Regions from separate parts of the Homo sapiens genome. Here region 1 is linked to region 2. The links come from fine-mapping of genetic effects on gene expression. A gene starts in region 2. The other region holds a variant in brackets. All regions are shown on one strand. Distances are from middle to middle. Region 1 has its middle 53 kb from the start of IL1R1. Region 2 holds the start of IL1R1 (interleukin 1 receptor type 1).

Region 1 (4,000 bases), 53 kb before region 2:
AGTTCTCTTGCTATTTTCACCACATCTGCAGTTACTTCCTCTACTGAAGTCTTGAACCCCTTAAAGTCATCCACGAGGGTTGGAGTCAACTTCTAAACTCCTGTTAATGTTGATATGTTGACCTCCTCTCATTAACCATGAATGTTCTTAATGACATCTAGAATGGTGAATCCTTTCCAGAAAGTTTTCCATTTACTTTTCCAGTTCCATCAGAAAAATCACTATCTATGGCACCTATAGCCTTACAAAATGTATTTCTTAAATAATAAGAATTGAAAGTCAAAATTACCTCTTGATCCAATGGAAATTGTGTTAGCAGGCATGAAAAAACATTAATCTCTTTTTACATCTTCATCAGAGCCCTTGGATGACCAGTTCCCTTGCCAATGAACAGTGATATTTTTACAGGAATCTTTTTTTTTTTCCCCTGAGAACTAGCTCTCAACAGTGGGCTTAAAATATTCAGTAAACCATGCTGTAAACAGATGTGCTGTCATTCAGGCTTTGTTGTTAAGTTTATAGCGCATAGGTAGAGTAGATGTAGCCTAAGTTTTGAAATGAGAAATGGACGTTGGCGTCAACTTAAAGTCACCAGCTTTATTAGCTCCTAATAAGAAAGTCAGCTTGTCCCTTGAAGCTTCAAAACCAGACGTTGACTTCTTTTCTCCACTATAAAAGTCCTAGATGGCATTTTCTTCCAACAGAAGGCTGTTTTGTCTACATTGCAAATCTGTTGTTTAGTGTAGCCACCTTCATCAATGATCTTACCTAGATATGTGTAACTTGCTGCAGCTTCTACATTAACACTAGCTGCTTCATCTTGCACTTTTGTGTTATGGAGATGGCGTCTTTCCTTCAACCTCATGAACCAACCTCTGCTAGCTTCCAACTTTTCTTCTGCAGGTTTCTCACCTCTCTCAGCCTTCCTAAAATTGAAGAGTTAGGGCCTTGCTCTGTGTTAGGCTTTGGATTAAGAGAATGTTGGGTCTGTTTTGATCTATTATTGACACTACTGAAACTTTCTCCATATCAACAATAAGGCTGTTTTGCTTTCTGATCATTTGTGTGTTCACTGGAGTAGCACTTTTAATGTCCTTCAAGTATTTTTACTTTGCACTCACAACTTTTCTAACCATCTGGTGCAAGAGGCCTAGCTTTCATCCCATCTTGGCTTTCAACATGCCTAAGCTTCATCATTTCTTGTTTTTATTAAAGTGAGAGAATTGTGACTCTTCTTTGAATGCTTAGAGGTCTTTGTAGGGCTATTAATTGACCTAATTTCAATATTGTTGCATCTCAGAGAATAGGAAGGAGACAGAGAGATGGGGGAGTAGCTGGTCTGTGGGACAGTCAGAACACATTTATTAACTTTTCTGTCTTATGAGTGTGGTTTGTGTCACCTCAAAACAATTACGATAGTAACATCAGATATTGCTGATTGCAGATCACCATAACATATAATAATAATAAAGTTTGAAATAGTGTGGGAATTACCAAAATGTGACACAGAGATATGAAGTTACCACATGCTGTTGGAAAAATGGAGCTGATAGAGCCAGATGCATGGTTGCCACAAACCTTCAATTTGTAAAACAAAACAAAAACCCCCACAGTATCTGTGAGGTACAATAAAGCAAAGTGAAATAAAATGAGGTCTGTTTGTACCTCGTTGTCTTCTAGTTTTCACTGTTTCTATCAAGGAGGCAGTTGTAAGTCTTCCTCTGAATGCCTTTGTTTCTCTGACTGCTTTTAAATTGTTGCTATTTTGTCTGTGGTATTCAAGAGTTTTATTATGATGGGTCAAGGTGTAGTTATCTTTGGTTTAT[CT/C]TTTTTTTTTTTTTTTTGAGACAGAGTCTCACTCTGTTGCTCAGGCTGGAGTGCAGTGGTACGATCTCGGCTCACTGCAAGCTCCACCTCCCGGGTTCACGCCATTCTCCTGCCTCAGCCTCCTGAGTAGCTGGGACTACAGGTGCCCGCCACCACACCCGGCTAATTTTTTTGTATTTTTAGTAGAGACAGGGTTTCACCATGTTAGCCAGGATGGTCTCGATCTCCTGACCTCATGATCCGCCTGCCTCAGCCTCCCAAAGGGCTAGGATTACAGGCATGAGCCACTGCGCCCAGCCTATCCTTTTTTTTTCAATTTTTTTTTTTTTTTTGTAATTTGGCCTTCTAGTCCTTTGTCCCCTCCTCATCACCACCACCACCTACCATGGGGAGTTTTGGGTGCAGGAACCTAAATCCCCACAAAGGTTCTATGTTGGGGGTATGTAATAACAAATAAGTCAATCAGATCAAATATTATTTTCCCACCAACTTGGAATTTGCTAAGCCCCATGAAAATGTGGTTCACCAGTTTTGAAAAACGTTTGGCCACTATCTCTTCAACTGTTGCTTCTGATTTGCTCTTTCTGTCTTCTTCTAAGATTAATTATACATATGTTAGACTTCTTGAGTATATCATGCATATCTCTTACGCTCTTTTTATTATTTTTCTCTCTATGCATTGGTTTTGATATTTTCTGTTAAACTACCTCCACATTTGCAAAACCTGTGGTCTGCTGTGTTTAATCAGCTGTTAACCCATCAGCTGAATTTTCACTTCAGCTATTATATTTTTCAGTTCTAGATTGTCTATTAGATTCCTTTTTATAGATTTCAATCCATTGTTGGTATTTTTTATCCTTTTACCTGTTTAGTTCATGTTTTTCTGCATCTTCTTGAGGGTATTAATCACAGTTATTTACAGTCTTAGTTTGCTAACTATAATTTCTTGATTACATGTGAGCTGCTTCCATATTCTGCTTTTTTCTCTTAATTATTAGCCATATTTTCTCGTCTCTGTGGTAAATTTTTAATTTTGCCAAACAATGTGTATGAGAGGACAATAGAGGCTTCGGCTAATGTTATTAATGATCAGGGAGTTTCTTCTTTTCTGTTCAGTAGATGCAATGAGGTATTGGTAAACTCAGTCCAACCAGAATTTTCCATTTTAGTAAAACACATTAGAACTTGGTTTACTTGTGTTTCTCAATTGAGACTTTTCTGGGCTTTTCATAGAGAGCCTTGTGAGTCTCTGTTGCCTTAGTTCCAAAAAAATTGTGGGAGAACCAGATATACCCTCCAGAGATTCACAGCCCAGCTCTCAAGTGATCAGTCTCATAGAGATGAAAAATCTGGCAAATGTTTTGATGGAAAACAGGTTATGTGCTTGAGGCAGGGCTTCTTCTAGTAGTTTTTTTTCTTTCTTTCTTTTAATCTATCAATCTTTAACAGCATCTTGGATAGCCTATGAGTGTATGTACTTGACAAACATTGCCTCTTTATGGTTCACAGTAGTTTCTAAAATACATTCACTTTATTGGCCATTATCCTTTGAAAGCTGATTTTGTAATCTTGATAAAGTGGAAGTGGATTTTATAGTCTTGAGAAAGTGGAAATTAACAAGGCAGCTTCATGGATAATGTATCCTTTTCTTCTTTCTGAAAATTATACATACTATTTTATATATTTATGGGGTACATGTGATATTTTGTTGCATTCATAGAATGTGTAATGATCAAGTCAGAGTATGTGGAGTATCTGCCATCTTGAGTATTTACCATTTTTATACGTTGGGAATATTTCAAGTTCTCTCTTGTAACTACTTTGAAATAGACAATACACTGTTGCTTACTATAGTCACCCTACCTTGCTCTCCAATAGAACATATGCTTTCTATCTAACTGTATGTTTTTACCCATTGACCAAGCTCTCTTTATCCCCGTCTTTTACCCACACAGCCTTCCCAGCCTCTACTATCTATTATTCTTCTCTCTACCTTCATGGGATTAACTTTTTAAGCTCCTATACAGAATAAGAACATGCAAAATTTGTCTTTCTGTGTCTGCCTTGTTCCACTTAATGTAATGACTTCCAGTTCCATTCATGTTGCTGCAAATGACATAAAATCATTACTTTTTAATGGCTGAATAGAAGGTTTTTGATATGTAATAACTTA
Region 2 (4,000 bases):
ACTGGGTAGGAGTGGCTGAACGGGGACAACACTTAAAAAAGACAAAAATTACGGATTTTATTTCTACATGGTTGCACAAATCAATTTCACTTTCTACTTGTAAACTGCTTAAAAACCTTCATTATGAAAATGGAAGGACGAATTTATGTTCACCATCATAGTGCTTCTGGGCTGGTTCCACAGCATGGAGCCAGGCCCACCTGCTGTAGCTTTCAGAACTGCCATTTGGACACGTGGTTGAAGCAGCCTTCAGTTGGAGGATTCACAGTAATGGCATCACTGTGGGAGCTTAGAGGAACAACTGCTTGCAACCCCAGCTGCACTGGAATTACCTGGGAGCTTTAAAAACACTGCCTTTTGGGCCTCAGCCCCAGAGACTCTGACGTGACTGATCTGAACACAGGAGTGTCATGTCCTCCGGTGATTCTGAGTGGAGTCAAGGCTGTGAGACCTTCTGCTGTATAAAGGAATATTGAGAGCTGGGATTGTTAAGGAATTCTCTTAATGCTACGTCACTGGCCTCTGATGTAAGCCTGCTTTCTCGAGGAAAAGGAACCATAAAAGCTTCTGGAAACAGATTGTTTAAGAATGAGAAATTGTCATCATGCCAGGTTGCAAGACAGCTTTTAGGGCAGATGAGCTTCTGCTGCTCATTCCTTCATCTTTTCCTCCAGCCTGGATTTGTCCGGGGGCAGCTGAGGCTCAGGTTACCTCAATTCTTGAGTTTCTGAAGAGGCATATCCAGGGGTGGGTTACGAGAACAAGAGCCTGCCCAGTCTGAAAGGGATGCAGGAAGGGGCGGTGTGTACTAGAAGGAAGGAAGCTATCATCATTTATTAAAACTCTTCTTGGAGGATGGCCCATGAAGACCTCCAAACAAGCTGGAGGGGCCAGTCACTTGCTGAAGACTAGCGAAGTGGAGGGGGAAAGCCCGAGGGAGCTGCAGACTCGACCACTGCGCCCTCCCCTCCTCTCCCTGCAAGGAGCCCAAGGTGTGATCCTGCCAGGCGTTCGTTCGCTGCATGACCTTGGCCATCCTTCCATTCCCCTGGGTGTGAATTCTCATTGGCAAAGTGAGCTGGTGGGCATAAGTGGGTTTTAAGTTTAAAAATTTAAAAACCCTGTCTGCCCCCAAGTGTGGTATCAAGATTTTATAGTATGACACTTAAATTGCTTTTTTCATCCGGGCGCGTAACAGCAACAATGAAACCAGCAGATAACGCGTGAGTAGTATCAGCTCTGGGCCTGGCACTATTTTATATGTATTAGCTCATTTTTTTTAAAAAACTGTTTTCAACCACTCCATGAGATGAGTGCTCTTATGATCCCTTTTTCACAGAAGAGGAAACGGAGGTACAAAGAAATTAGTGCACAAAGCCAGTCGGAGAGAGCCCCTGGCCAGGCACCAAGCTCCAGAGGTCGCTCTGGCGAGCGTTTGCTTCGGGATCTGATGCCCTGGAGTCGCCAACTCAATTCGCGGGTCGCAGCCAGGCTCCATGGGGGTAGTAGAGCCAGGTCGTAGTGGCTAGGTGAGTTGTCTCAACTAACTCTAGTGGAGCCGCCGCAGCCCTGGAGGAGCCGGGCCGCGACTCGAGAGCGCCCGGCAGCTCTCCAATGCTTTGGAACCGGCGGGACCCCTGCGGGCTACCCGGGGCAGGGCGGTGTCCGCAGGGGTCTGTCCAGCCGCGCCTGCTCCTCCGGGTGGAGAGTTGGGACACCCGGCCAGCTCGCTCGCAGCCCGCGGACTGGCCCAGCCGAGCCGTCTCCGCCCGTTCCCCGCCCCCGCAGCGGCGGGGCTAGAGCCAGAGCCGCGCCCGGCAGTTCCCGGCCGCGAGGGCGGGCGCAGCTTGTGGCCGGCGGCCGGAGCCGACTCGGAGCGCGCGGCGCCGGCCGGGAGGAGCCGGAGAGCGGCCGGGCCGGGCGGTGGGGGCGCCGGCCTGCCCCGCGCGCCCCAGGGAGCGGCAGGAATGTGACAATCGCGCGCCCGCGCACCGAAGCACTCCTCGCTCGGCTCCTAGGGCTCTCGCCCCTCTGAGCTGAGCCGGGTTCCGCCCGGGGCTGGGATCCCATCACCCTCCACGGCCGTCCGTCCAGGTACGGGGAAGCTGGAGCATCCGGGGACTAGGTAGGGGTGAGACGGACCACAGCCTTGACACCTTCGAGTCCCCCGCTCTGCAGGACGCCGTGAGCGTCCTCCCTAAGTTGCACTTGGTTGTCAGAGTGTGTTGTGTAAGAAGGGGATGGCGGTGAGGTCTGCGTGTGTGTGTTTCTTGTGTGGAGCAAGAGTTAACGTTGTTCAGGTCGTTTGAAGGAACTTGCCAGTTGTTCTGGAGGGGGGTTCTAGGTAGGTGTGTGACTTCCCGTGTGAATGGCTTTCAGGTTTTCTATCCGGCTACGTTCTACAGGTTCAGGAGCGTCCCTCTTAGAGGTTAGGCTCAGGACCGTCAGTCTCCTTAACAAGGTAAGGGCTGAGGCCTTAACCACACTGGGGAGGGTAACTTGTTGCCCCTCCAGATAAAGGATGGTGCTAGGGAATGTAGCTACAAGCAAGTAGGCGCTGAGAAGACACTCATTATTTACAACAGTCATGCCCAGCACTTTACAGTTTATAAGCCCTTGACAGCAACTGGTCTTTTACCCTCCCTACAGTCTTGTGAGGAGGGTGCTGTCATCACCCCTGTTTTACAGCGGGGGAAGCAGAAGTTTAGGTGACCAACTTGTTGGAGGATGATGTCCTGAAGGAGGGTAAGACCTCTGCATGCAGCCCCCCTCTGTCTTCCCTCCCACTCGTCCTGCCTGCCAGGGCTTTCTCCTCTGCACTGCCGGGAGGAAGGAAGGCCGCTGGGAAGGCACGCAGATGCTGGCTCCTGCTGGGCTGTCTCTCCACTGCCTTATCTTTGGGGCAGGGTAGCTTCTCAGATGGCCACATTCCTGTGATTTAGCTTTACATTCTAGGAACTGAGGCAAGGGACACCATGAACTTGGGCTCTTGAGGTCATGGAGCAAGGGTCCATTCGTCACGGGAATGTGATGGATGTCTCAGTCGCTGCGGTTTGGTGCCAGGCTTCTGGACATTGAATGTATGAAACAGAACTCCATGACTATTGATGAGCTGAGGAAAGCCAGAGGTGGCATGGGGACGTTCACTGTCCTTTTTGCCATCCAGTTTACCAAGCGGCTATTGGCATTGTTTTCTTTCTCAATCCCTTCTAATTTATTGTGTGATATCTCATTTGATATTTCATTTAATATTCTGTATTCATATCCGATGTTAACGTTTATGCTAGACAGAAAGGTAGAGCCTTTGAGAATGGGGTTTGCTGGGGCAGGGGTGTGGAACTCTGATTTATTTTCAGTCTCTGGCTAGCTGCCAAGCTGCTGTGTGTGAAGCGTCTCCTGCACCCGTCCACTCTCATGTGGCCTCCATGCTGTTCAGGAAAGGATATTTGATCTGAATTCTCACATGACCTTGGCAGGCCCAGAGCAGCACCCCCATTTCTAATAGGCCCTGCTTGTATGTCATAATGTGACATCAAGTTTTTTTTTTATGGTTCTGAAACCTGTGACATCTTTTGAGTCAACCTCTCACCATTGTTGAAACACTGCTTAATAGTAGATTCACTAATTTATTAAAGATTTATTGACTATCTACTATGTGCCAGGCACTGTGGTGAGTGGTGGGGAGACAGCGGTGAATACGACAAGTGAAAACCTCTGTCCCCTTATGGACATGAGTCTTCTTGGTAAGACATAGGATGTCAGCAGTCTCTCTTCAAAAGGGGGGTCTTTGAAATCCGCCCCTTTGTACAAGGGTGTGGATGCACTGGCTACCTAGAGGACACCACTCAGCAGCCCCAATGGAGAGGACGAGGAGATGATGGGCACAGATGTAGCTCTGTGGTTCCCTAGAGAATCGCAGGGCTGCTATTCTCCAAGTTTGTGGTGTCCCTTGCCTCAGTTCCTAGGATGTGGAGCTCTAGGAGGTGGAGCTACACTCTGT

The links. PIP is the estimated chance that this variant, and not a neighbour inherited with it, causes the effect. A credible set is the group of variants that fine-mapping cannot tell apart.
Region 1: its variant is the best candidate, but not a certain one, in a credible set for the expression of IL1R1 in whole blood (INTERVAL, PIP 0.87).

Annotation. Positions count from the first base shown.
Region 1 is chr2:102,088,008-102,092,007 of GRCh38, forward strand. It overlaps a transcript of IL1R1 not described here. Among named protein-coding and RNA genes, the nearest start is that of IL1R1, 53 kb to the right of the region's middle. The variant CT/C (reference allele first, on the strand shown) is at 1,827.
Region 2 is chr2:102,140,927-102,144,926 of GRCh38, forward strand. IL1R1 (interleukin 1 receptor type 1) reads left to right here and starts at 1,820. Exons shown (of 12, transcript NM_000877.4): 1 at 1,820-2,094. RefSeq lists enhancers at 2,683-2,977, 2,743-3,037.